2 linked regions of the Homo sapiens genome follow. The protein of the gene in region 1 interacts with the protein of each later gene in a pairwise test. Each region holds a gene or a part of one and is shown in the gene's direction. Other genes may lie near its edges.

The links.
Region 2: the proteins of NREP (region 1) and IGSF21 interact in a two-hybrid assay, tested with the Homo sapiens proteins (one large-scale study listed by BioGRID and IntAct).

What each region holds. Positions count from the first base shown.
Region 1 is NC_000005.10:111,736,395-111,740,211, reverse strand, and holds part of NREP (neuronal regeneration-related protein), read left to right. Parts: intron 1-485; exon of another isoform or gene 486-1,908; intron 1,909-3,817. UniProt on the Homo sapiens protein: May have roles in neural function. Ectopic expression augments motility of gliomas. Also promotes axonal regeneration. May also have functions in cellular differentiation.
Region 2 is NC_000001.11:18,373,195-18,377,011, forward strand, and holds part of IGSF21 (immunoglobulin superfamily member 21 precursor), read left to right. Parts: intron 1-3,115; coding exon 3,116-3,201; intron 3,202-3,605; coding exon 3,606-3,798; intron 3,799-3,817. UniProt on the Homo sapiens protein: Involved in synaptic inhibition in the brain. Selectively regulates inhibitory presynaptic differentiation through interacting with presynaptic NRXN2.

The sequences.
Region 1 (3,817 bases):
TGGTTCTTTATGACGTTCTGTTGTTTTTCAACCTAATTGTCAGTGAGATAAATATAGCATCATAGAAAAAGATGCATTAACCAATATATTCAGTGACAAGTATAAACACTCAAACTTCCCCAGAATTCAAACAAAACTGTTGCATATTCTCCAAATTAAAGTAACAAAATTTTCCTTCCCTCTACTTTTTTTTTTTTAACTAGCATTTTTGTTTTCTCAATTGTTGAAGGTACGATTTGCTTTTCTGATTTTCTAATAGACTTCTGGAAGAATAGTATTCTAGAGGGTTTTGAGGATTTTATTTGGGCAAAAACAATTGTTTATTGTATACATGGAAAAAGCAGTTTTAAAAGAAGACATACTTTTTGTGAAGATTAATGCAAACTTTGGTTTGTTTAATGAAACAACAGTTTTGAGGTATTCCCATACCCAGAACGCTTAAATTTTCTAGATGCAAACCACCGAAACAACAATAGAGAATTCAATGAAGTGTCAAAAAGAAAGTTAATTTAATTGGCCTTCATGAAAAACACAAACTTGAATTCAGACAATGAATGAATGGAATGCAGTATCAGCCACGTGTCCATGTTTGGAGTGTCAGTTGATGAGCACCAAGAAGAATGGGCAGCTTTACAGTTCAGCAAGCACAGATGGACTCTAGATAGATGGATCAGCTTACCAGTTTTCTGACCCTCATATTATCAGCACTCAAAAGCTTCAGTGATAGGGTCATTGTCAGTTCCTAATATTCTGAACTAGTTAGAAAACTGAGGGCACAGAAACTCATGGGTTCATGTGGGTCTTGTTACTGCTGTGGCCCCTAGGAGCTGCAGGGAGACCTGGCTACAGGGCCACTTGCCTGCATGGAGCTTATTCTGCACTTATCCCTCACCCTTCTATCATCTTCCTTGGCTGATTCTGACAGCCATCAAATGCCCTCCCAGATGTGCTCACTGCCACCCCCATTTCCTTTGTTGACAGCACTACTGGATATTATGCTAAATGTTGGTTTTGTTTGTTGTTTAGTCTGTTGATAGATGTTCCAGCAGCTATTACATTTGACTTAACCTATATATTTCTTTTTTGTTGTTGCCCTTAAAAAGCACACTGTGTTTAGTTTGCGAGGGCTGCCATAACAAAGTGCCACAGACTGGGCAGCTTACACAACAGAAATTTATTTTCTAACAATCTGGACGCTGGAAGTCTGAGATCAAGATGTTGGCAGGGTTGGTTTCTTCTGAGGCCTCCCTTCTGGGCTTGTAGATGGCTGTCTTCTCCCTGTGTCTTCATATGGTCTTTCCTCTGTGTATCTGTGTCCTAATCTCTTCTTAGAAGGACATGGGTCACTTGAGATTAGGGCCCACCCTGATGATGTCCTTATTTTAACTTAATTGCCTCTGCAAAGATCCTGTTTCCAAATACAATCACATTCTGAGGTATTGGTGGTTAGGACTTCCCCATATGAATTTTGAGGTGATACAAGTCAGCCCATAACACATTTTTAAAAGTAAATTTTTGTGGATTGATCACCCCTGCTGTACCTGCCCCACCCCCAGACGTGAGCATCTAGAAGGCAGAAACTCTGTTTCTCTTGCAATTCCCACAACCTAACAGTGTCCAGCACTTTGCAGCTATTTCATGAACTCTTGCTGCATGAATGCAAAAAAGGTTGGTAAGAAACTTGAAGTTGAAAAGTGGCACTATTTCTGACTGCCAGAAGTAGCACCTGGCGAGTAGACTAGAACATGTTCCGATGAGAAGAAGAGGCAAAGAAAATACAGTACATTTAAACCGAGACAGCTTTTGACAGAAAGGCAAATGATTGTTGCTTGGGATCACCCATTCTCCACATCCAGCACTGGGAATGGAATGGAAGTTCAGGCCCTTGCGGAATACCAAAGGTCAGGTCTGAATCATTTGAGAGCAAAGGTAATTAATGATTGTCAATAGATCTTTTCTCTTAAGCTCTTCACTTTAGAGTCTCAAAATACTGCAGGTATAAGAAAGAACAATGCTGTAATGCAGATAGATCATATTTGTTTCCAGTAATTTACCACGGTTTCTTAAAACTAGCTGTGCTTAAAAAAATGAAAAGTTTAAATATCTCCTTTAGGTACTATGTCTAGGGATATGCTGAGTTCTTAGATACCAGCCAAGCAGGTTTTAAGAATGTAACTGAGACTCCTCTGTCCCTGCCATTTTTGGCTTAAGGTTCTGACTTTGAAGGAGATTGGAAAACTACCAGAAGGCCAAAGCAACGTTCATTTTTCTAAAAGTATACAATGATTACTTGATGATTCAAATACTAAAAAATGCCTAATGTGCTAAAAATGCCTAATAGTGAAAAAAAAAGCCTTGGTCAGTGTAACAAATATGAAGTAAGGGAGAAAGTTTCCTTAGTCATGTGTGTTTTGCTGTCAGATATTCATGTTCCCAAGTTCTTTGGCAAAAGTCATTGGCTTTTTTTTTGTTTTTGTTTTTGTTTTTTTTTTTTTTAGCAAATGGAGAGTTCTTAGAACAACAGATTGTTAGAATAGGTGTAATAATTTCTGAAAGGCAAGCTATTTTCCCCTACAAATTAGACTTTGGTGGTTTTAGTAATGATGCTTAGAAGTTAAATGTTAAAGCAGTGTCATTTCGTTAAAATGGAATATCCCAGAAAAGCACAAGAACGCAAGAATGACAATACTTACCTGACCTTGCTTTTCTTTGCTTCCTGTGCCTACAAAGTTTTTACATGTACTTTTATCAACGTTTTTGGTTTCCAACAGAACTTAATTTCTCACTAATATTTTAAGACTGTACTTGAAATATGATTTTTAAAGTGGTAATATAGAAATGTAATCACTTTATATCCATTTATATGAAGTGAATTTAACAGTAGATTCAAACTTGGGGTCCCCTAAAGTTGAGCCCAAACTGGGCTTTTGTGTGCTGTGACTTTGTTATAAGTCTGAAAAAAGCTTGTGTATTTGAGATTATTTTGTTTTCTTCACCCATTCCTGGATAAAGGAAATGTCAGAAGTGGCTGCTTGTCCCAAACAAGGCAGATGGTGGATTACTTTCTGAAGGAGCTGGGCACAGGAGAGGAATATGTGGAAAAGTAAGGTGGTTGGGGTGAGGGGAACCACATGGCTCAGAAAACAGACCCAGTCCAAAAAGAAAATAGTTCTAGCTCTTGCAGAATGAGCTCTCTTTAAGACCCAAACGTGGGTGGCGGCTGTGGACTGGTATAATTTTGAGGGAGTGGTGGTAGGCGATTTGCATTCTGGGATAATGCGAGGGCAGCAGGATAGTGGAAGGAACTGAAGTTTAGAATCTGGAAACCTAGTGTGAGTTTCAGTCCTACCCTACACTACCTGTGTGACTTGGGGCAAGTCGACCTTTTTGAGTTTCAATTTCTTCATTTGTTTAATGATAAGACCAATATTATTGGCTTATCATCAGGACAAATTAAGTAATGTATGCAAAATTGCTTTGTAAGCTAGGATGTGCTACAAATGTCACTGGTGTAGAGCAAAGATAGTTAGTTACTGTTCAATTATTCCGAAGAGTGAACACACTTAGCCATCTACATTTCCTACCCTAGATTCCCTGACAAAATGGATTGATCGGGGTATACCAAGCATTACAGTCAACTCAATGATTAGGTTACCTCAATTACGGCTTCCAAAACCAAAATGTAAACACACATCTAAGTCTGTTTGTTAATCTGTTAATGAGGTGTGACTCTTAATTGTTGTTTATTAAATGTGAGGCTTATTTATTGCAGAATTTGGAGAATCTGATCTGGAGGGAATCTTACCTAATTTCACTC
Region 2 (3,817 bases), on another chromosome or scaffold:
ATGACTCATCCAAGTCATGCAGCCAGAAAGTAGAGGGCTAGGTGTCAATCCTGGGTCTCTGGACTCCTGCTCTTTCTCTACGTCCAGGGCTTGAGAGGCAGGAAAGTCCGGAGACTAAGAGCATTCCTTTCGGGCACTCTCAGCCATTGTGGTCTAGAAGCAGGCAAGGGGGTGTAGGTTTTGATTGTCTGGAGCTGCTAATGGGCCAGGCTCGGAGTGTCAGGAGGCTGAGGGTGGAAGGAGTGAGGAGGCTGACAGCAGCAGGCTTGGCTTCCAGAAGCAACATCTCAACACAGCAGTAAAAGAGGGAGTCAGGGACCATCGGCTGCAAACGCACTTGTCTAGTGGCAGCTGCCAGGATAGAGCTTGAAAGCAGCGAGGGAGGACCAGACCCCTCTTCTGCCCACCCTCTGTGCCCCTCAGGATCAGATGCACACAGGAGCCCAGGAGCCGGGGTGCCCTGGGTGGAAGAAGGCACCCATCTCTGCCCCACCTCCACCCTTGGGCTCTGAGACTCCCTCTGAAGCCCTATGTGCTATCACGTCTTGTTACTGGTACTTCCTATAGCATGACCTTGGACAAGCCACTGCCCCCCTGGAGGGCCAGTTCTATGACCTGCACAATGGGTTTCGTGATAACCTGCCTCGTAAGTACCAGAATGGTGTGACTGTCCTAAAATGCCTAAAATGGAGTCTAGCGCATGTTTGACACCTGAGAAAAGTTGGTTCCTTCTTCCCTTAGAACCAGCAGGCCCAGGCCCGGGCCTGAAGGAGTAAGGCAAGCCCTTTAGAAAGCAGGGCAGTGAGGAATCTAACCTAGAAGGGAAAGGTGTCTGCCCCTGCCCTCCAGGGCTCTAGCCTTCTCCAGGACCGGGATGCCCTTCAGCGCCCTCTCCTGGCTGCAGCCAACAATGCCGCCCCAGCAGCACCTGAAGAACGTAAAGAGCCCCCAAGATTACCCAGGGGCAGACTGCCCTAGGCCTGGTTTCCCATCTGCAAAACGATGTCTACAGCACTTGAGGGTTCATTTTAAAACCCAGAAACTTACTTGGGCTCCCTGAGCCTTCATTTCCTTATGGCGACAATCTCAAAGGCTGGAAGGCTAAATGAGATTATGCATATGGCACTTCATGTAGGTCCTGGCTCTTAGGACTCGCTAAACAAATGTTAGCCATCAAACCTGCCACTGCCTGATGTTCCTAACGGCCCCGCGTGTTAGGCAAGGGGTATCATTGTTCCCATGGTGCACTTGGGAATGCGAAGGGGAGCCACTCATCCAAGGGCGCAAAGAACAGATTAGAACTCAGCTCGCAGGTATCCCAGGCCAGTGGCCCTTCCACACGACTGGCTGGCAGATGCAGCTGTAGAACCAGCCCTTCCCTTCCCAGCGATTCCCTCTCCTTGGTGCAAGCCCTGCTCTTCCCACGGATGCTTCCCTAGACCCATGTGGCATTTCAGATGTCTTGCTTATGGTTTAATTAATAGTCCTTTGATTTCATTCTCAGAGAATGAAATTGGCAGTGCCTGGGAGGCCACCCACATCTGCCAACTGCTCTGATTTCCGTTCTAAGAGCTTTGCGTCAGAAAGAGAGGTCCGGGGACCAGCAAGGAAAGGTGGGGGTAATCCCAGGGCAGCCCCAGGGCCTCAGGACAAACCTTTTCCACCCTTAGAAGATGTTTACACAGAGTAGCACAAAGCATAGAGTACCAAACAAAACCCTCACCCCTTCCTCCGGCCCTGGAAACTCAATGGGATCTGTCTCCCAACCCCCTTCCCTCCCTGACCTGCCTCTGTCCCATGCCCTGGCTGTTCCCTGTGCCTGGAATATGCCTCGTGAGCTTCACAGCTCAGCTTAAATGTCACCTCCTTGGAAGAGGCACCCTGACCACTATCTGAGGATTTCACCCACCAATTCTGAGCCCCCTCCCTTGGTCTAGTGATCTGCATGGAGCACTGTCACTCTCATCCTGTTTTGCGTATGTGTTTGTTTGCTTATGAACTCTCACCCCTACTGAAGTGGGAGCTCCATGTCAGCAGGCACTGGGTCTTGTTCACCACCATATCCTCAGCTCTGCTCCAAATGGCTGGCTCCATAATTACTGTTGAGTGAGTGAGTGAGTGAATGAATGAATCTGGGGGAAAGAGTGCTGGCGAGAAGGTCAGGAAACATGGTTAACTGGCTCTGTGAGTGACCTTGGATAAGCCTCTACATTATCCGTGGAGCTCTGTTTGTCAGCTGAAATGAAGGGAACAGACCCAATGATCCCGAGTGGCTCCTCCATCCCTGATATTCTCAGGTGTCGTTCAGAGGATAGCCATGCCTTTGGGCATCTTGGCTTTCAAGCTCAGAGATACAAAGGGACTGAATAAGAGGTGATACAAGAAAGTGAGGAAGAGAGGCAGGGAGGCTGTGCACAAGGAAGGAGGTGGTCTTTCTTCCCACACCATGTCCACCCCTACCCAGAGGTTCTAGAAAAATCCCACTGGGAAGATTAACCTGTTAGAAAGAGCACTGACTCAGGAGTAGGAGACCCGCACCTTGATCTTGGCTCTCCTCAAGGTGTGACCTTTGGCAAATCACTTCATGACCCTCTGAGGCCCAGTTAACTCAACTGGACAATGGGGCTGATGACACCAGAAACGCACCTCCCAAGGGGGTAGCGTGGGTGGGAGTTGGGGGTACCTCAAGTCTGGCTGCTGGTGCAGGCTGCTCCCCCTCAGCAGCCTAGTAGCACGTGCCCCAGGTACGTTTCCCTCCCTGACCCCACTGTCCACTGGGCCTCTCTGATCTTGTCCCTCATGGCACTGGCTTGTACTTGTCTGTTGTTTGTCTTTCTTCCCCACTGATGTGTGAACCCCCCAAGAGCAGGAATCATGTCCTATATACACCCTTGACTCCCCAGGTCCTAGAGAGCATCTGATTCATTGCATGGGCTTAGGGAATATGTCTGAATGAATGCAGCTGTGAATGAGTGAATGAATGAATGAGCACACTGAGCTTCTCACAGAAGCAGCTGATCCCAAGGATGTTGATTGCTAGACTAGAACTTTCTCTTCCATGTACCCTGTCCCTCCTTTCCTTACTCTCTCTGACCTGGCCTTTCTCTCCCTACAGTTGCCCCCAAAGGACCCAAAATTGTGATGACGCCCAGCAGAGCCCGGGTAGGGGACACAGTGAGGATTCTGGTCCATGGGTTTCAGGTCAGCCTCTCTCTGAGCATCTGGGAGGGTGGTGGGAGGTGGTAGAGGCACCGACCCAGCACCAGCATTCCTGGCAGTCCTCTCTAACACTCTTCCTTTGATCCCCAGCCACATCCAGTGGGTTTCAGTTTCCCAATGTGTAATTGGGAGAATCAGCTCCCATGAGGAATGGCAAAGAGGTGCATGCATGTTTCACACCTTCTAGAACTCAGAGTAAACCTAGCTCTTCAACGAGACATTCTCTTAAGTCCCAGACTCCTCCTCCTCCTGGAGTTCAGGGCAGCCACTCCTAACCCGTCGGATGAGAATGCTGTGCCACCCCTGGCCAGGCAGCCCCTGACCCCTTGCTGATCTGGCAGAATGGGCCCTCCTGTGACCCACCTCTCCCCTGATCTGGCCAACAGAACGAAGTCTTCCCGGAGCCCATGTTCACGTGGACGCGGGTTGGGAGCCGCCTCCTGGACGGCAGCGCTGAGTTCGACGGGAAGGAGCTGGTGCTGGAGCGGGTTCCCGCCGAGCTCAATGGCTCCATGTATCGCTGCACCGCCCAGAACCCACTGGGCTCCACCGACACGCACACCCGGCTCATCGTGTTTGGTATGGCGCGCTCAACTGG